Linked DNA regions of Homo sapiens. The protein of the gene in region 1 interacts with the protein of each later gene in a pairwise test. Each region holds a gene or a part of one and is shown in the gene's direction. Other genes may lie near its edges.

What was found. Proteins that work in one complex are often made in the same cells at the same time.
Region 2: the proteins of SFT2D2 (region 1) and TMEM51 interact in binary tests that used the Homo sapiens proteins (3 or more experiments, as listed by UniProt).
Region 3: the proteins of SFT2D2 (region 1) and SLC30A8 interact in binary tests that used the Homo sapiens proteins (3 or more experiments, as listed by UniProt).

What each region holds. Positions count from the first base shown.
Region 1 is NC_000001.11:168,221,643-168,229,026, forward strand, and holds the start of SFT2D2 (vesicle transport protein SFT2B), read left to right. Parts: upstream 1-4,361; 5' UTR 4,362-4,437; coding exon 4,438-4,500; intron 4,501-7,384. UniProt on the Homo sapiens protein: May be involved in fusion of retrograde transport vesicles derived from an endocytic compartment with the Golgi complex.
Region 2 is NC_000001.11:15,156,743-15,163,768, forward strand, and holds part of TMEM51 (transmembrane protein 51), read left to right. Parts: intron 1-7,026.
Region 3 is NC_000008.11:117,130,779-117,138,016, forward strand, and holds the start of SLC30A8 (proton-coupled zinc antiporter SLC30A8), read left to right. Parts: upstream 1-4,216; 5' UTR 4,217-4,549; coding exon 4,550-4,620; intron 4,621-7,238. UniProt on the Homo sapiens protein: Proton-coupled zinc ion antiporter mediating the entry of zinc into the lumen of pancreatic beta cell secretory granules, thereby regulating insulin secretion.

The sequences.
Region 1 (7,384 bases):
AGCAGATTTTATAATGGAGAAGCCTTCTTGGTATGTAAGAAATCAAAATAAAAGAATACGCTGGATGCGGTGGCTCATGCCCGTAATCCCAGCACTTTGGGAGGCCGAGGTGGGCGGATCACCTGAGGTCAGGAGTTCAAGACCAGCCTGGCCAACATATAGTGAAACCCCGTCTCTATTAAAAAAATACAAAAATTAGCTGGGTGTTGTAGTGCACACCTGTAGTTCCAGCTACTTGGGAAGCTGAGGCAGGAGAATCGCTTGAAGCTGGGAGGTGGAGGTTGGAGTGAGCCGAGATCGTGCCACTGCACTCCAGCCTGGGTGACAGAATGAGACTCCATCTCAAAAAAAAAAAAAAAGGAAGAAAGTTCAGGATTTGCATGGTGGCCTAGGCTCTTACAATTGTGATAAGGATAAACCTGCTTCATGTGGGACTCAGACACCAGAACTATGTCTGACCTGTGCTGTGCTTAAATGGGCTTTGCCAACACTGCCTTAGGAGTCTCCTTTTCCTAGCCCCTAGGATTAACCAGTTTGAGGAATGGCCTTCCTTTCCTTCTCCTTTTCCTATTCTAGATACATTAAGGTATTCAATCATGATTTTCTAAGGGCTTTTTCTTAATAACCAAGTAGGAATATGTCCACCCTGATGAATTCTGTGTTAATTTCATGCATTAATAATGCTCAGAGAACTGCCTTACTTCCTATTCCTTGGAAGCTAACTCCTTAGAGCTTCCTTGCACACACACTTCTAAGAGACTTTGTAAGAACTTTTTTTGTGTTTAGCTTTTGCTGAGAGGAGGGTGAAATTTAATAGAGCGCACATAAAATTTCATCTAAAGCTTCCTGTTTGTTCATCCTGGCAAAACAGAGGTACAGAAAGGCTGTGAGGGAGTACATCACTCAGCCTTGAGGACTTGTTTGCATCTGCATTGCACAGTGGGGAATGAGAATGTGACCAGTGACTAGAGTAGGTTATTTATTTATTCATTTATTTGAGACGGAGTTTCGCTCTTGTTGCCCAGGCTGGAGGGCAATGGGGCGATCTCGGCTCACTGCAACTCTGCCTCCCAGGTTCAAGTGATTCTCCTGCCTCAGCCTCCAGAGTATCTGGGATTATAGGCGACTGCCACCATGCCCGGCTAATTTTTTTGTATTTTTAGTAGAGACAGGGTTTCACCATGTTGGACAGGCTGGTCTCAAACTCCTGACCTCCTGATCCACCTGCCTCAGCCTCCCAAACTGCTGGGATTACAGGCATGAGCCACCGCGCCTGGCCAATGACTAGAGTAGGTTACTATTTATTTAGCACCTACTATACGTTCCAGGCACTGTGCTTGGCACTGGGGATGGAAAGACAAATAAGATCTATGCCCCATAGGGACCCTAATGTGAACAAATGGAGCATATTGTGCTAAGTGTTATGGTGGAGGTAAGAATAAGGTGACTTGAGAGAACTGTGTGTTAGGGGAAGGGAAAGGGACAAGGATGGAAAAGAGTAGGTGTTTTCCAGGACAAGGTAGGGAACACAATGAGTTCAGGAACTACAGTCTCCTATGCCTGGAGCCTGGAGTATGTGAGAGAAAGGAGAGAGATGAACCCAAAGAGGAAGGTATGTGTTGCTGAGAAGTCAGCAGCAATTTATCTGTAGGTGGTAGGGAACATGGGCATTAGTTTCCTGCAGCTGCTGTTACATATCAGAAATTTGGTGGCAACAGAAATGGATTCTCTCACAGTTCTGGAGGCCAGAAATGCTGAAAACAAGCTATTGGCAGGACTATGCTCCCTCTGGAGGCTCTAGGGGAGAATCCTTTCCTTGCCTCTTCCAGCTTCTAGTGGCTACTGGCATTCCTTGGCTTGTGGCTGCATCACTCCCATCTCTGCCTCTGTGGTCACAGTGCCTTCTCCTCTTCTGTTGGTGTCAAATCTCCCTCTGCTTCCCTCTTATAAGGATATACATGATTGCATTTATGGCTCACCTGGATAATTGTGCATAATCTATTTTAAGATCCTTAATTACCTGCACAAAATACCACCCCCACTCCACTTTTCACTGTCTAAGGTAACATGTACACTTTCCAGAGATTAGGACATGGGTATCTTTTGGGGAACATTTTTCAGTTTACCACACTGTGGGAGATGTTAAGCAGGGCAACAAATGAGTCAGACTTATGTTTACAAAGATCCTTCAAGGGATGGTGTGGCACAGTCAGAAAAAACCTTCTGAAGACATTGATTAAACCTTCCTCATTCTTCTGTGTTTAATGACTACTTAGTATTCTTGTGAATGAATGTACCATAATTTATTTAAGCACTTCCCTCATTTATGAACTTTTAAGTTGTTTCCAATTTTTTTCTATTACAAACAATGCTACAATGAATCACCTTGTAATGGGCCAATTGCACAATGTGCAAATATAAATGTAGGTAAATCAGGAGCCCATATTCTGGGTTCAGACTCAGACACATTGGAGAAAGATAAGAGTGGATGCCTGTTACATTTTACAATAGATAATATTAATGGATTGTGAAATATATACTGAGCACTGTTCTAAGCATTTTTGAAATGGCTTTATTGCAATAGAATTCATATGCCATACAGTTAATTCAAAGCATACAATTCAATGGTTTTTAGTATGTTCAGAGCTGTGCATGCAACCATTACCACAATCTAATTCCAGAACATTTAAATCACCCCATTAGTCTCTTACTACCATTTCCCCTCCTCCATCCCTAGGCAACCATTAGTCTACTTTCTGTTTCTATGGGTTTGCCTATTCTGGACATTTCCTATAAATGAAATCATACAATATATGGTCTATTGTGTCTAGCTTCTGTGAAAGGGAAATATCTTGGGCCCCCCCAAATTACTAAAGGGAAAATTCAAGCTGGGAACTGCTTAGAACAAATCTGCCTCTCATTCTATTCAAAGTTATCACTGTGTTCACTGAGATAAATGCACATCTGATTGCCTCCTTTGGAAAGGCTAATCAAAAACTCAAAGGAGTGCAACCATTTGTCTCTCACCTATCTGTGACTTGGAAGCCCCCTCCCCCCTTGAGTCTTCCTGCCTTTGCTTCGAGTTGTCCCGCCTTTCCAAACACAACCAATGTACTTCTTACACATATTGACGGATGCCTCATGTCTCCCTAAAATGTATAACACCAAGCTATGCCCCAACGACCTTGGGCACATGTCGTCAGGACTTCCTGAGTCTGTGTCACAGGTGCTGTTCCTCAACCTTGGCAAAATAAACTTCCTGGTTAACTGAGACCTGTCTCAAATTTTCGGGCTCCACACTTCTTTCACTTAATACAATGTTTTCGAGGTTCATCCACGTTGTAGCATGTGTCAGTACTCCATTCTTTTTTATTGCATGGGTATGTCACATTTTATTTACCATTAATCAGTTGGTGGCCATTTGTATTGTTTCCACTCTGTTGCCCAAGCTAGAGTGCAGTGGCTTACTGTACTGACAATCATGGCTTACTGCAGCCTTGACCTCCTGAGTCCAAGCCATTCTTCCTCCTCAGCCTCGCAAGTAGCTTGGATTACAGATGCCCGCCAGCATGCCTGGCTAATTTTTAAGAATGTTTTGAAGAGATGAGGTCTCCCTATGTTGCCCAGGCTGGTCTGGAACTCCCGGGCTCAAGCCATCTTCCCAAAGTGCTGGGAATACAGACATGAGCCACCATGCCCAGTCTACTTTTAGTTTTTTTAAGGTCAGAAAAAAAAACAATTGTACAAACACAAAACAATTTAACAATCTATTATTCCTTTCAACATTCCTTCAGTCACTTTTTTTTTTTTTTTTTTTGAGACAGAGTCTCGCTCTGTTGCCCATGCTGGAGTGCAGTATCCTGGTCATAGCTCATTACAGCCTGGAACTCCTTGGCTCAAGTGAGCCTCCTGCCTCAGCCTCCGGAGTAGCTGGGCTTCCAGGCACGCCCCACCACACCAGACTAAGGCCTTGAGTGATTAAAAAGAAAATCTTTTCCTGTGTAGGCACGATCGCAATATGGATGAACCACAGCCTTTGTTCCCGTCTGCACAAGGCTTCTCCCCCGTCTTTGTGTCTCCGGAGCCTTGCACGTGGTAGGTGCTCGGCATTCGTTGACTGGATCAAGTAGGGCGAGGGAGCGCGGCCCGTTCCGGTTTGAAACTGCTCTGGACGCCGAATTAGTGTTTGGCAGCGCCTGGTGGTCTTCAATCCCAGCCCCTCCGGCCCGCCGCGCCCCCCGGGACCAAAACAAGCGGAGGCGAGCGCGGGCGCGCGGGGCATGCCGGGAGCCCCCCGGTGGGCAGGTGCCTGGGCGGGGCGCGCCGCGGTTGGCGCCTGGGCGGCTGGGCGGCTGCCTAGCACCCGGAAGAGCCGTCAACTTAGCGAGCGCAACAGGCTGCCGCTGAGGAGCTGGAGCTGGTGGGGACTGGGCCGCAATGGACAAGCTGAAGAAGGTGCTGAGCGGGCAGGACACGGAGGACCGGAGCGGCCTGTCCGAGGTGAGTGAGCCCGGGGCCGTCGGCCCCCTCTCGCCGCGCTCCCGCCCTGCGTCCCCTGCCCGGGCCTGGGAAGCCTGCGGGGACTCCCTGGAGTTTCTGGACGGTAGCTCTGCCCCTTCTCCTCCTCTTCTTCTGCAGGGCTCCGCGAAGAGGTCTGGCACTACACGGGGCAGTGGCCGCGGCGTCCTTTTCTGCCCCGCGCCCCTTCAGCCCATCCTCCCTGACAAGGGGGCGGCGCAGGAGGAAATCCCCGGACTGAGCTGCGAGTGGGAGGGTGGGCGACTGGGCTGTCGGCCCCGGCCCCACCGGCCGGGGAATGCGCTTTAGGGCCGGGTAGGGCTGGGGGCCCCGAGGTCCAGGCGGAAGGAGCCTTTGCTGGGTGGGTCGGGGCCCCAGACCCGGACTGGGGTGTTGGGGTGGCGGTCCCTACCTCGCGACGGGGCTGGTGGCCGCGCCCCGAGCTCTGCCTTGGTTTTCTGTCCGGTTTAGGTTGTAGGGTGTGACACTCCCACCCGCCCCTGTACACATTGCCTTGTGATTGGGGGTGAGAAACTGCCCCCATCCCATGAGGACAGGGACCACATCTTGTGTCTCTGTCCACACTGCCCACAACTAGTCTCTAGACACCCAGCGCCTCAGGAGACTGCCTGCGTGTTGGTTTGTTTTATTAGAAAAGCTTTTTTTTCTTTTTTTCTGAGACAGAGTCTCACTCTGTCGCCCAGGCTGGAGTGCAGTGGCGCGATCTTGGCTCACTGCAGCCTCTGCCTCCTGGGTTCAAGCGATTCTCCCACCTCAGCCTCCCAAGTAGCTGGGATTACAGACACCCGCCATCAAACCCGGCTAATTTTTGTATTTTTACTAGAGACGAGGTTTCACCATCTTGGCCGGGCTGGTCTCGAACTCCTGACCTCAAGTGATCCGCCCACCTCTGCCTCCCAAAGTGCTGGGATTACAGGCATGAGCCACCGCGCCCGGCCTATTAGAAAAGTTTTGATCGTGCTGAAACCTGGCCACTAATGTCCTATGTTGTAGAACCACACAGAATGCTGCATTTCTATTTAGGGTGCTTTTAGCTTTTGTTTTCCTTTTTGGATGACAAAATAACGTTTCTCTTCGCTTTTTGGTGTATTCTTTAGCCTCCGTTCCCCATCTGTGAAATGAGGATGTTAAGATGATATGGCCAACTGGAAACTAATCAGTGTTTCTTCTGGTTTCTCAGCAAGTTCTTCTTTCTCAGCAAGCTGCTTTCACCCACGTTTGTGGTTGCTGATTTTATTCGGTTTTGTTTTGTGTGATACTGGGACTTAGCATGACATCTCCGAATGTAAGATTGCTCTCTGAATCTTCACCTTGAGGGAGTAATTCTATGGGATCGAATGTTGGAGTCACTGAAATTTAACTTTTTGATATTTCAAAACAAGTTGGTGGGTTCTTTTTAATTTGTTGCCTTTATTAATTGGTCAAGGCTCAGAGTAATTTCACGGGTTTTTTTTTCTTGATTTCTAGCCTCTATTATGAATCTCAAGTGGAACCTCAGACCGGGCCTAAGAAAGGTCTGACTCATAGGTAGCTGACCCTCGTTATTTAAAGCTTTATTTCCATAGACTGTCAACAAGCCTTTATGAACAATTGGTGCTTAAGAGGCAGACACTTTCTCTCCCTGCAGACTCTTGAGGGGTGGAGTGTTGACAGTGGGATGATGCAGATATTATTGTCTCGAAAATCATCACGAAGCAGTGGGCTGACCCTCAACAGTGGACGACTAGTAAAGTTTGCAAACATAAATGCTGAGCTTGTTTTTAACCTAAAATGGTGAACGTCTGTGTTGGATACTGTGAGAAGGGCTTTAATGTGTTATGCTGAGGCATCTGTTGGATCTAATTTAAAAAGAATAGGTGCTTCGTTCTTGTTTTAAAATACTTTGGTCAGTTGGTCAGTTTCCTCTTTCTGAGTGAGATTTCTGTTTATAACATCATTGTATGGCACTTCCAGAGTCTTGAATTCCTAGGAAATGTTTTGTTGCCGACTAACTTCATCTTGCAGGCTGTTTCAGCTTAGTGTTTACTGATTAGGTCAGAGCCTCCTTTAAAATATTGGTACTGATTTGATTGTCTCATATTTTTCATGGTTTGGGGGCTGGTAGAACTGGAGGATTCTGTGGGGAAATTGCTATTTTGTGTGGTAAGTTGAATTAGGCGCTCTTAAAATCTCTTTAAGAGGTCACTAGAAGAGAGTGCTTTTTAAAACCTTTATTCCTTTAATGCAAACCATAAAGGTGTGACTAGTTCTATTTCTCCTACCTCTCCTAGGTAGTTATAAAATTTGCATGGCAGTATCTAATTATAGCCTCACGTTGAATTTTGTGATTGATACCTCATCTTCATAAATACACCTTAAGTCTTTAGTTTCAATGGACTTCTTTCTGAAAGTATAGGTTTTATGTTTTTTATAAAGGATTCTGGGGACAAGAAAGGTATGAATAGTATCTAATTTTAAAGTGTGGAAATGAAGCAGTATTTCTTTCTTACCTTCTTCTGGTTACCAATCCTGTTTTTCTGAACAATTCTTAGTATTATTCTTGGCAAGAGCCCCTCTTCTCTCCACATCACAGAGTGAAAGGGACCTTTGTGAATAACTGCCAGTCAGACTGCCTGTGAGCGCATTGCCTACAAATTCCATCCAGGTACCATTTTAGCTACTCTAATTTCCAAAAACAATATGCTAGCACAGCTTCCAGCAGTCATGAATTTACAGACATTTTATGAGTTTGTTTTCATAATTTGGCAAAAAGAAGTGTTTTGCTTTCACTGAGTCCAGTTATGAGAAGTGGAACAACAGCTTCCTCCTTCCCTGACCAAGTGTGAATGTAAAAGAACTTGCAACC
Region 2 (7,026 bases), about 150 Mb from region 1:
ACTCAGAGAGGGGATGGGACTTACCCAAGGACACACAACAGTTCAGCAGCAGAACTGGGACTGGAACCCAGCCCTCCTGACTCCCTTCTAGGGCCCTTTACTTTAACCCAGGAGACCTGGCCACATTCGGGACCAAGACTGTTTTGGGCCCCAGGTTTCTCAACCTCTCAGTCTTTCAAGCGGCTTCATAGAGTTGAGCTCCTCCCCAGCCTGGACAGGTGGTGCAGCCTCCCCTGCCAATGTTTTATTCTCCCTTCCTCTGGATTGAGCCCTCGCTGCCATGGCCACCCCTCCTGGGAGCTCTTGCTCCTGAGAAAGAAAACAGGCCGTTTGTTTGGAAGAAACAAGCCACCTGTTTGGTTTCCCAATACCAGGCCACACAGCCCTGTCCCTCCCAGACAGCCCCAAGATGCTGACCAGAGATAGCCCTCTGAGGGTCTCTGCTGAGCTCCCCTGACCCTCGACTCCTCCCCTCAGCTCCCGTCTCAAGACTGCTGGTTGGTCCTCACCTTCTGTCTGTGGTGTTTACTTGGGCGGAGCAACCTAAAGTCTCCACATTCTCTCTTGCCCTGGATTTATCAGACTTAGCAGCCCTTAAACCTGAATGCGTAGCTTCAGATCTTAGAATATCGGGGCCAGAGGGATCTTAGCCATCAGAAAATCCACTCTGCTTATTTGACAACTGGGGAGACCAAGACCCAGGGAAGAGGAGATTTGCCTGAGATCACAGCCAGGACCAGAACCCGAGGTTCCAGAGTTTGTCTTGAATGATTTTGAGGATGATTCTTGAAAAACAAAACAGGGCACCCTCCCCCTCCAAGATCCCCTTTCTGTCTGCACTTCACACTACCAGGTGTTTTTGTGGCATCCGTGGTGACATGGTCAGGAGGAGTAAGGGCCAAGGGTCCTGAAAGATGAGGTGTGCACATTGAGGAGTGTGTCTGCGCATTTCCAGGTCCTGTCTGTTCAAACTGGCATTAACACCACGGCATGAGCTAGTGAGTGCATTTATCTGGCACTCCCTTAGCCAGACTTGATAATGTGTCTTTGGATGGCAGGCTTTTAAAGTTGTCTTCGTCCACAGATTACAAAAGAAGTAGGTGCTCCTTGTAAAAACGAGCAGATGACATCGTGAAGGCTGGCGACCACTGTTAATATGGTGGCGTTTTATTCAGGTTTTTGTTTGCTGAGCTGTTTCATGTCCTGGTTTGTTGTTGTTGCTTTTGAAAAAATAGAGACAAGGTCTCTGTGTGTTGCCCAGGTTAGTCTTGAACTCCTGGGCTCAAGTGATCCTCCCACCTCAGCCTCCCAAAGTGCTGGGATTCCAGGCAAGAGCCACTATGCCCAGCCCGTATCCTGGTTTTTCAACTCGTCATTACAGTGCCTGTTATCTTCATGAGATAATGTGAGTGACTTCACGCAGGATCTAACCTGTAGGTCTCACGTGCTTCCACCCCTTGATGGCTAGCAGGTATTCCCTTGGCCAAAACCCTGTGACGCTGTGCAAAGTGCAAAGACGTTTCCAATTCACCACTGTGGGAGTCCAGAGGGCCGTTTTTCTGCATCACCATGGGGTTTGGGAAAGCAATTCTCTCTGAACTCTTAGAAATGGAAGCCACGGGCCATCTGGGTGTGATGCGTGTGACCCAAATTCATACAGAGGGAGGGAGACAGCTTTGTTTCTTCTGACTTTTATGTGTTTATTTTTGCTGTGTTTGTTTTAACCCATCCAAGTGCCGCCACCCCACCATCACTGCCCCTTGCCCCAAATCTCCCTGGGATTAGGCATGGGGTTAGGCAAGTTGCAGGTCTCTAGAAAAATCGGTATTTGGCATGCTCATCTCCAAACCCTGGCTCTTGCAGAGTAGGCGTTTCAATAGCAAAGATGTGCAGAGAATTTGTTTCCTAATCGGTGATTCAGGTAGGACACCCCATTCTGGGAACAGGATGGGGCGGGGTCTCTGTCTCTCTCTACCAGGATCACAGCTTTGTTAATGCCATAAATCATCAGTACTGGAAGTACTCGTATCTTGGGGATTTTCTAAGCTCATGTTCACAGAATGGACAGCCACTTACTAGTGGATTTGAGCATCGTTGAGTGGTTTTCCGCTGGATTTTTAAAAGTGAAGTAGAAGACAGTGGACTAGAAAATAGCATGCATTTCCTGTCACGAGAAATATTCCTTAGTAAAACTTTCAGTTATCTGTTTGTGGATGTGCACTGAGTCACTAGGTAAAAACGTCTCTCCTCCTGCATGGTAAGAACCTTGCGCAATGTAGCTCCGGTTATACTGTGATCCTGGGAAACCTTGGATGGGTCCTAGAAGCAACTCAGGGGTTTGCAGGGACAGAGCTGAGTGGTGGAGGCAGGGCCGACAGGAAGGAAGCTCGGCTTATGCTAAGGATACAAAACATCCACTTTTAAAACTCTGTGACTTTAAAAATAAAACAGAAAGTTGGAAGCCATTGTTCGTCTAGCCTCCTCAATTCCTAGAAGAAACTGAGGCCACAAAACAGAGGCTGGGGCCTTTGCTGCAGGGGAGGTAGCACTCAGGCCTCACATTGAGGAGAATCTGCAGATGTAGACCCTTGACCCCTCCACAAATGAGCGACTCAAAACACACGTTCACGGTGCAGCCTGTGACCCCCATAGGCCTCACTGTTGCGTGCACTAGGAATTCATGTTTATCCTAAAGCCTGTCGCTCTCGTGCCAACAACCCAATTTATATTGCTGAGATGCACAAAGCATTAATTTTTTCAATGCCACATTTCAAACAAAGAAGAGTTAATAACCCTGTTCTGGCATTTCTTTTTTTGTTTTGTTTTGTTTTTTGAGACAGAGTCTCGCTCTGTTGCCAGGCTGGACTGCAGTGGTGCAATCTTGGCTCACAGCAACCTCCACCTCCCAGGTTCAAGCGATTCTCCTACCTCAGCCTCCCTAGTAGCTGGGACTACAGGCATGCGCCACCACACCCAGCTAATTTTTGTATTTTTAGTAGCGATGGGATTTCACCATGTTGGCCAGGATGGTCTCGATCTCTTGACCTCGTGATCCGCCTGCCTCGGCCTAGGCATGAACCACCACACCTAGCCTTCTTCTTTTTTTAATGTCCCCAGAGCTTTACCAATGGAAGCTTCCCAGGCCCATCCCCTGGCCTGAGAGGCCTTTGAGATGATAAGCCCAGGGTCACCAAATCCTGGCAGAACCTGGCAGAATGAGAACTCACCACAGGGAGCAAGTTCTTTTTTTTAAGATCGTGGACTCACATGATGTGCAGTTCTGGATGTCTCCAGGAGGTTTTGCTATTTCCTCAACAGGTAAAATTAGGTGGCTCTAAATCTTGGGCAATTTTATGTCTTTTCCATGTTTTTCTCCTCACATGTGGTCTAGGGAGGGGTGTAGAGAAGCAGGTGGAATTTACTTGCCTTACCTTATCCTACCTTTTCCTGGAACCCACAGGTTGGGCCTGTGCTGGTTAGGGTGTGGGGCATGATTTGTTGATATTTGGTGAGGGAAAATGACTTTATTTTATTTTATTTATTTCTTTTGAGACAGAGTGTCACTCTGTTGCCCAGGCTGGAGTGCAGTGGTGCAATCTTGGCTCACTGCAACCTCTGCCTCCTGGATTCAAGCAATTCTCTTGCCTCAGCCTCCTGAGTAGCTGGGATTACAGGTGCATGCCACCACGCCCGGCCAATTTTTGTATTTTTAATAGAGATAGGGTTTCACCATGTTGGCCAAGCTGGTCTTGAACTCCTGACCTCAAGTGATCCACCTGCCTCAGCCTCTCAAAGTGCTAGGATTACAGGCGTGAGCCACCACACCCAGCAAGAACATGATTTTAAAAAACAAAACAAACACTCAAACTTTCTTAAGTTACCATAAGAGGCCTCACATACAGCTTCCTTAAAACTGCCTGCAATTTGGAGAGAAGCAGTTAGGTACTGGAACTGCCTGTGGGTAATTATTGTTTTCAAACAGTGACAGATGCAAATTCTCTTCTTTTGGGGGAAATTGCCTGTAGCTAAACACCGGCGCCATCACTTTAAACAAATCTCCTGATACATATGGTATGCCAGGCGCTGAGCCCAGGAACGAGGGAGAGTCAGCCCCCGCCCCCCACCCCGATGGAGCTGATCCCCCACGGGAGGCAGCAGGGATTGTACCTTAACAACATGTGAATAAAGATGAGGAAGCACAGCCCGTGAAGGAGGAGGCTTAACCCAAACTTGGAGAGTCAGGAAGGATTTTCAGAAAGAGTGCAGTCTGAGCTGAAATGGGGAGCGGGGAGGGCAGGTGCAGCCGCCACCGCCAAAGGTCTTCCTGGTGGAGGCAACTGCCTGTGCAAAGGCCTCAAGGTGTAAAAGAGCTTCGTTAACACAGGCCAATACTGAGTGTAGAAACGCTGCACTCAGGGCAGATGCTGAAGGCAGAGGTGGAAAAAGTATTTTATATAGTTTCTTCTTAAAAGTCATTTTGGGGGCTGGGCATGGTGGCTCATACCTGTAATCCCAGCACTTTGGGAGGCCAAAGCAGGTGGATTGCTTGAGGTCAGGAGTTCACGACTAGCCTGGCCAACATGGTGAAACCCCATCTCTACTAAAAATAGAAAAATTACCCGGTATGGTGGCAGGTGCCTGTAATCCCAGCTACTCAGGAGGCTGACCACAGGAATCGCTTGAACCTGGAAAGCAGAGGTTGCAGTGAGCCGAGATCGTGCCACTGAACTCCAGCCTGGGCAACAGAGTGAGACTCATCTCAAAAAAACAAAAGTCATTTTTCTCAAAAAATTAAAATCGAATAACCATAGGATCCAGCAGTTTCACTTCTGGGTGCATACTTGTCTTAGTCCATTTGTGTTGCTGTAAAGAAATACCTGAGATTGGGTAATTTATAAAGAAAAGAGATTTATTGGCCGGGCGCAGTGGCTCACGCCGGTAATCCCAGCACTTTGGGAAACCGAGGCAGGCAGATCACGAGATCGAGACCATCCTGGCCAACATGGTGAAACCCAGTCTTTACTAAAAATACAAAAATTAGCCAGGCATGGTGGCGGGCACCTGTAGTCCCAGCTACTCAGGAGGCTGAGGCAGAAGAATGGCTTGAACCCGGGAGGCGGAGGTTGCAGTGAGCCGAGATGGAGCCACTGCACTCCAGCCTAGCGACAGAGCAAGACTCCATCTCAAAAAAAGAGAGAAAGAGGTTTATTTAGCCCATGGCATCTCAGATGCATCAGCATCTGCTTCTAGTGAGGGCCTCGGGCAGAAGGACAGCAGGCGTCATGTGGTGAGAGAGAAGAGGAGAGAAGGAGTGGGGAGCAGACTCTTTAACAACCAGATCTTTGGGCACCAAGCCATTCAAGAGGGATCCACTCCCAACAACCAAACACCCACTAGGCCCCACCTCCAACATTGGGGATCAAATTTCTCTTCTTTTTTTGAGACAGTCTTACTCTGTTGCCCAGACTGGAGTGCAGTGGCACAATCTTGGCTCACTGCAAACTCTGCCTCCTGGGTTCATGCGATTCTCATGCCTCAGCTTCCCAAGTAGCTGGGATTACAGGCATGTGCCACCATGTCCAGCTAATTTTTGTATTTTTAGTAGAGATGGGGTTTCACCATGTTGGCCAAGCTGGTCTTGAACTCCTGGCCTCGAGTGATCCACATGCCTCGGCCTCCCAAATTGCTGGGATTACAGGCATGGCCACCGCATCCAGCCTGGGGATCAAATTTCAACATGAGATTTGGAGAGGACCAATATCCAAACTATATCAATGCTCAAAAGAATTGAAAACAGGTTTTTGAAGAGATATTTGTACACCCATGTTTATATGAGCATTACTCATAATAGCTAAAATATGAAAACAACCCAAGTATCCATCAAAGGATGAATGAATAAACAAAATGTGGTCTATCCATACAGTGGAATATTATTCAGCCTCCATGTGGAAGGAAATTCTGACACCATGCTGCAACATGGACGAACCTTGAGGACATCATGCTAAGTGAAATAAGCCAGTCACAAAAAGACAGATACTATATGATTCTACTTGTATGAGGAATCTAGACATCATAGAAATGGAAAGTAGAATGTTGGTTGCCAGGGGCTGGGGGAAGAGGAATGGGGAGTTAGGGTTTAATGGGTAAGGGGTTTCAGTTTTGTAAAATGAAAGCGTTCTGTGAATGCATGATGGTGATGGTTGCACAGCAGTATGAATGTACTTAATGCCACTGAACTGTTCATGGAAAAATGGTTAAGATAGTCAACTTTATGTTATGTGCATTTTATCACACTAAAAAGTTGGTGGGTGGGGGAGTCATTTTGGAAACAAGACTCAGATAGTCATTTGGCCATATCATTGCGTTCTCTCTACAGACCAGGTGTTCTTCCAGGCTTTGGGGGGAAACGGTGCCTAAGACAGGCTCAGTTCCTGCCCTCTTGGAGCTTACACCTTATTAGGCAGCAGGGAGGAGTCAGTCAAGTAGGAAACCAACAAGTAAAATAACAAATCAATAACATGTCAAATGCACTGATCTGAAATCTTTGCCCCTTCCCTATGCTGGCAGGATCAAGCCAAAGCTAAGCTCTTTAACTTTCAACACTATAAAGCCCGGACTTCTTAGAGTCAGCCTCTGTTAATCTTTTCAGACCTATTACTGCTGCCTTACCCCAACTTCAACTGCATCAGTCACAAGGAACTACTTTCCACCCCCACCTACCTCGTACCCCTGCTCAAAGCCAGGAACTTTGGCGGCTTTTTTCCTTCCTGTTCTTTCTGCTTTTCTTTCTAGACTGCCCAGAGGCTTTAGAAAACACCATAATTTCAATTCTAGAAGTTTATCCTAAGAAAACAGTTAATGAGTATAAGGAGTTAGTTTCGAGACTGTTATTTTTTGTAATAATAGCAACAAAATTAGAAAGCCATTTTGTTTTTAATCTGTCCAGAGATGGTCCTAGCCACGACCCTTTAAATAAATTTTTGTTTAATTTTGGAATAATTTTAGATTTATAGAAAAGTTGCAAAG
Region 3 (7,238 bases), on another chromosome or scaffold:
CTAGAGGGCGTTTTTGAGGGTTAATTAGTTCAAATTTGCAAGTGCTTGGAAAAAGAAGTGTGGTATATGGAGAAGAATTGAAGAAATATACACTTCATAAACACTTCAAGCAGCTAGCCCCAATATTTCTCCCCCCAAAAATAATGCTAGTTCATTTTTCTGTCATTTATTTGCATCTATGAGACTTAATAAAATATTTCTTTTATTCTTTTAGTATCAATATTTTATCAAGTCTTTCTATTCTTAACAAATACAAATTGCATTTTCACCAGAACATTCCTATAGCTCAATCGCTTGAAAAATAGAAATAGTAAAAAAAATTACATGGTCCTAATTTATCAAGAAGGAAATAAACATCATATTGCTTTCGGTCCATTTTCAAGCAGTGTATAAAATATTGGAAATGGTTTGTGTTTTATACATATTTACTTTAGATTAAAATAAAATTTTCATAATGCTCTCTAAAATACAATCCAATTAAATTTCTAATGTCTTTGTTTTCACATTTCTAGATGAAACCTCTGAAATACTCACACTGTAGTAATAACCATAAAGCTACCTTGCTAAGAAAATACTACTCAACTTAGAAATAATAAGATCTTTATAGTTATGTGAGAATGCATGAGTCCAGAATCTTTAGTGGGTGATTACACTGGTTGAGTTTGAATTGCCTCCCCTGTTGTGGAAGACAGCTCCATAGTGAAGATCATTCTGAATGGCACTCTACTGGTGAGGGGGTAGAATGAGGCAGACATCAATCTAATTTGAGAAAGTAGAGTCCAGAGGGTTTGAGAGATCTACCCAAAGTCATAGAGCCGATAGCTGAAGTCCCCAGATCTTCCTTTTTCAATAACCTTTATTTCCTTGATGGATGCTTCATTCACAGGTAATTCTTAGCCTTCTGCTAAAGCTGGAGCCAATTTCTCAGCAATAGCCAAAACATTTTACTTAGACATGGCCCAGTGTATAGAAACTCACAGTTACATAAAACTGGTTATATATCAGAGACTATGCTAAGAACTTTTATACATATTATCTGTTTTCCTCTTCACAAGAACTCTGTAAGATGGATTCGATTAATACTCCCATTTTACAGGTGAGAAACGGAAAAACACAGTGGTCAGGCAACTTGTTCAAGGTCACATATCTAAGAAAGTGGTCAAACTGGAAACTAAAATTGTCTACCTAACTAACTTGAAAACCCATATATTAAACCACTTCACCACACTACCTCTCCACACCAACAGGAAAAAGCAAAACATGATGAAAGTCCACATTTGTTATTTAAAAACAGGCACATTTCTATGTCTGATTTAAAAAGATGGTTGCATGCACACATTGGCAACATGAAGTATTTCTGAAATACGAGTTTAAATATGGGGAACACAAATTGTAAGTACTTGGTACTTTAGTATCTAGGGATAATGATGGTAGCTTTTTATAAATCCATATGTCCTTTCTACAAGTGAAATATCCAACAATGTTTAAGATACTTGTGAAATTATTTTTGCACAAGTATTAGCTACTGTTTGTAACACCCTATTAAGAAATTGTTGCTGACAACAGCTAGGACTGAAGAGCCAAACCAGTTCTTCAGTGATGTTGGTGATGTTCTTGTGGCTGACAGAATACTTATTTCCACAGGTAGCTGTTATAGATTGTGTGTTTCCCATTCAGTTACTCCAAGCTTGTGAAGGAGAGTGGGCGGAGAAGACAACCTGTAATTCGGGATGGTTTGGAAGCTGGTTGCCTAGGAAACTGAAATGAGCAGCGTAATGCCCACTAAAACCAATGTCTACAGGGGATGGGATTTTCCTTTTTGATCCAAGTTGCTTTCCAAATATATATTCTATGCTGCTTGTGGAGCCCAGTTAGGCCGTTGGCCCTTGGTGGGCAGTTCATGCCAAAGTAGACCAAAGGTTTGTCAGGGAGGATGAGAGATTTTTCATAAATGTTGTGATGACAAAATATTTGAGAGAGGGAATGACGGTGCAGTTAAAATGAACTTGTAAGAGAATAAGGTGATCAGCAGATGCATATTTTACATGATATAATATGCAATTCTTGATCATAACATCTGCATCTAAATTTATGGCAGCAAAACTTTTTAAGCATAATTTTATTTGCTGTAATCTACTGTTCTCTGTTCTTATGCTACTCACACTGGAAGCTTTGCTTTATGGTAATCATCTTCAAGAGTAACTTTTGGGATTCATAAATCTTTGATGAAAATCATAATTAATTTCCTAGTACTTTATAAATATGTACATTTTTATTAGTAAATGTAACATACATATCCACACATATATTTTAGGTATCTATATATGTGTGCATGTATATTTAAGTTGAACCATATAAAATTGCTGATATTAGACCACATAGGACTTATATAGTTTATCTTATAGACAAATAGAAGAGATCATAGGATACATTTTTGACAGGGGGTAGCAGTATTTTTTGTTGTTTTGCTTGGGTCTCTCATTGTCTCTTTTCCCATCTTCACTTTTCCCTGTCCTACATCAACCCCATCCTACTCTCACTTTATTCTTGCCCCATAGGCAATCCACATTAACTACCTGGCATGTATCCTTCACACTCATTATAAATTATATGTCAATTATGTATGTATGTATGTCAATTATAAATAGATCTGTACATCCGTATTTGTACTAGAGGCAAAGTTCGCATGGAGGAATCTCAAACTTCCAGATTGTTTATTTCCTGTTGATATCTATAGCCAAATATTCTCCTTCCTGATTTGAAAATATTGCTTATCTCTTTTTTTTGTACTCACCCTTAATGAATTTCAGGCTGATTTAAAGTAGTTTCCTCATTTTCTGACATTCATTCACTTGAATTCTATTTCTCTTGTCTGTGCTAGAAACTATTCACAAATGATTCAAGCTGTGACATATGGCAGTGTGTCACACAGGTGGATTAGTAATTCTTTTCTGGTTTTCTACTTTCGCCTCCACAGAATAACTGATTACTTTGTAAGGTTAAGAGTAAGAATATACGAGAAAAAATACATTGGTTTTTATTCTGCTAACAGTAGACCCAGGATTTCAATGCCTTCACTTGCAAGGAAAAGGCTCCCCCAGAGCCTCTTAGAGGCTCCAAACTGTGTGAGCAAAGTTAAGGATCAGTAAGAGTGGGGTCATATGAGAAGACCTTAGAATTTATGTTATAGATGAGAGTGTTTGAAATCTTAAGATAATAAGAGGTACAGCTACACCACAGATGTGATAGGAGACCTAATAGTCTCATTCTGAACCAAAGGTGACTTCTCCTGTCACTGCCTATGACAATTGGCATTGAACCCCATCCTCCTTTTAGAGCACAATATTCATTTTATTAGGCCATTGTGAGAGATCTCAGCTCAGCATAATGGGCAACTTCCCGTGACTCTGGGCCACTGGGTTATTCTGGGACTTAACTACTCTGAGTTTTCTCACTAGAAAGTTAGTGTTCACACAAGGAAAAGGCAACAAGAACCTGGTGGTCTGGGGTTTACTCCTGTTCTCCAGTCTGCACAACCCCCTCTTTCTCTACCGTTGTGTACATCTTTATAGGTCTTGAAACCTTTTGCCCACACACAAATGCCTACTGTTTGTCCAGGCTCTTGCCATAAGGCTATAGTTCTTTCTCTTATTTGGGAAGGAAAGTGCTTTGTATGAAGTAAAATGCTGATTCCTAGGAGTTGAGGAGTGTGAGGTCTCCCAGGAGCAACTCAGAGGCTTCCTTCCTCGGAGCTGGAACTGGCATGCCTGATAGGGTTTCCTTGGGTGAATCCTTGATCCTTAGTAGAGGGTACCTTGGCCAGGAAGAACAAAGCTCACTCTGGTTCTTGTATTTTGGAGGGCTGTTATTTACGTAGAAGCAGAGTCTGTCCTTCTCTTGCCAATCAAAAGGATTTCAAAGCTGCTGTACCAAGAACTGTTTTCAGATTACTGGTTTCAGAAACTATTGACCCTTGTCCTCCCTTTCAATAGTGAAATCCCAAAATGGTCCTAGGAGAGACAAGTAAATTCTGACAGCTGCTTAGAGGTCATCTTAGAACTAAATTCCAAAGAAATAATTTTAGGCTGATAAAGAGTCCAGAAAAAGGAGGAGGGAGAGAAAAAGAAAGAATTAGTTTAGTGTAGCGAATGGTAGCTATTTGCAGCTCACCCACGTGTGCTCCGAAGGTCAAAACCCTACATCAGCAATTTGTAGCAAGCTCTTGAGCTCCTCTACCTCTTAGAAAGCACAATTGAATCAGATATCATATGAAAGACATACACACTTCATGTAATGCTACCTGCAAGTCTCCCTAGAAAAGCAGTTTTTGTAGGTGAAAACAATGAAGCCAGGTAATATTGCAAGGAGGCTGTAATTTTAGCAGACCTACCAACAACACTGATGTAGGAAGCTCATTATTTTAATTTCTGGAGCCTTTTAATTTTTTCTTTAGAAAGTGTATAAATAATTGCAGTGCTGCTTTGCTTCCAAAACTGGGCAGTGAGTTCAACAACAACGACAACAACAGCCGCAGCTCATCCTGGCCGTCATGGAGTTTCTTGAAAGAACGTATCTTGTGAATGATAAAGCTGCCAAGATGTATGCTTTCACACTAGAAAGGTAATAGATGTCTGTGTCTGCTTCACAATTTTCTCTGTTGAATATCATCCAATTCCTATACCTTGTTGCTTCTGAATTGTAGGCCTTTACTCTGCAACTTGGGGGCACTCTGGAACATTTTATAAGTTGTTGACTGACATGTATTTTATATTCTGAAAAATGCAATACTTTATATAGTTGATTTGATTCCTTAAATATCCTAAGTGCATAAAGAACACATTTTACTGATGTGTTTTTCATCTGTCATGTTTATTCCAGAAAATAGACCTATATAATCTGTTTACTTTTCCTTTTCTCAATTATTCTCAATTTTAAGATAGATAGTAAATTTTATTATATTATATTTAGAAAAAGTTAAGACTTCAGCTACATGGCAAAATTGTGGTTGTATTGATCTTAAAATGAGCTGTTGTTTTCATGCTTATAAAGTATCATTATTAATATACATACCTATAACAAATATAGCTGATTTTAATGTTCTACAAAGTATTCCATTTCTTTTTAATGTCTCCCACAGTGTCACATGCAATACATTCATTCATTTTTCACTTGGTTAACAATTATTGATTGAACACACCTGTAGTAAGTGCAGAACTTATAATGAGAAAGAAAAAAATGTCTAGTTTCAGATCTTTGTCCTCTTGAAACTTAGTCTAATGTGAAATACATATTAGAACTAGGCAATTACAAAACAGTGTATTTGTGTCATATTGAGGGTGTTCAATAAGAATAACTGGACTTTGGAATCAGAGGAAGCTTTCTCAGAAGTAATAGGCTAAGAGCTAAAAATAAAAAGGAATTAAAGTAGGGTTAGGGATAACCTACATAGAAAATAGTTTTAAGGAAAGTTTCCCAGACTTCGATAATTGCACAGTAAATATACTTTCACATACATAAGAATGTGAGCTTGGTTTGTTTGAGGAGTTGAATCTGAATGGGGTTCAAAAAAGGAACACATTCAGTGAATATAAATGAGCTAATGAAAATCTGAAAAGAATTGATGTTAGAAGAAGAATTTAAGAGAATACTTGCCCATTAATAATACGTGTAATGTTCTTGTTTGTTTCACAAAGCCAAACTAATATTCTAAGGAGTAGTGATACTATGTTTGGGAGCATCAAATATTTTAGTAACAGCAAAGAGATTTTATAAAAAGGATATTTATAACTTGGCTTAAAACAAAGAATCTAGCAATCTCACATTAGAAGAATTATTTTTCTTAGAAAATAATATTAGATATGATGTATTGAGGTTATTAACATAAAAAACAAAGCCTTGTGGTAAGTCAGGCAGAAGTTTTGGACAAAAAATTGTTAACCCTATGGATACTATCAATAGAGCATCTCCACATTACTGAAATAACAATATTTCCCTTCTTATTAACATAGACTATTAGCATTTTGTTGCACAAATAAGCCAACCACTTATAGTTACAAAGTCTCATTCACCCCATAAATAGGTATGGTTTTCAGGACACAGTGTTTATAAGAATTGTCAAACTCATTTGTATTTTCTTGTCAAGGGAAATAAATTAAATCTGGAAGAGATTATTTATCTCGATCCCTCATTTTACCATGTAGGAAACTGAATGCCAGATAGAACAAATGCCTTTCTTGAGGTCAGAATAAATGTGTTTCTTGAGGGCAGATGGCTAATTACAACAGAACTGGGCTGTGGACCCAGGCCCCCTTCTTGTTAATTTAGTGTTCCCCTTCTCCGTCTACATCTCCTGTACCCATACATGCACCATGTGGGCTCCTGAATCCTTAATCTATCTCCTCCTTAGGTCACATGTCCCTGAATTCCCTCACTTACTCACTTCTTCCCCCACCTCTACCAATCTATCTCATTTATTTTGTTCTGTCTCTATTAGTTGTGGATAACTTTATCCCCTGATATTCCTCCTCTTTTCTCCTTCTACCTCTTTTTCTTTCTACTTTCTATTATCAGCTTTCTATTTAAATGGTTACTGGCTGTTAAGAAACTTACTCTGAAGAAAACTTTATTATCTAATTCCACAAATGGAGTGTTCCATTTATCTATGGCTGTGCAACAAACTACCCCAAGATGTAGTGGCTTAAACAACAACTATTTTATTACGATTCTCTGGGTCAGGATTTGGGCAGCATTCCATGTGAATTAGTTGGAATAGAAGGCTGCATTCTGCTGGTATCTGGGCTAGGCTAGAAGGTTTAAGATGGCTTCACTCACATGACTGAGATCTTTGTGTTGGCTTTTGCCTGGGGCGGGGGTCTTAATTCTTCTTCCCATGGCTTCTCTCCCTGTATGATGTCTCACTTTATCTGGTTAGCCTGGAATTCCTTATGTGACAGTCCAGAGTAGCAAGAGAGCAATAGTGGAAGCTGACCATTCTCAGATAGCTTAAGCCCAGAACTGGCACAGTATCATTTTTATCACAATTTATGGGTTAAAGCAAGTCCCAAGTCTCAGATTCCATGGGTGAGGCAATAGATTCTATCTCTTGATTGCATGTGCATATTGGATGACAGGAATTGCTGGAGGTAATCTTTACAGGCATTTTACCACAGGAAGTAGTAATATTGGACCCAGTAGGTGCCATGAACCATATTTTTTTACCCTCTCCATTCTCTCCAAAT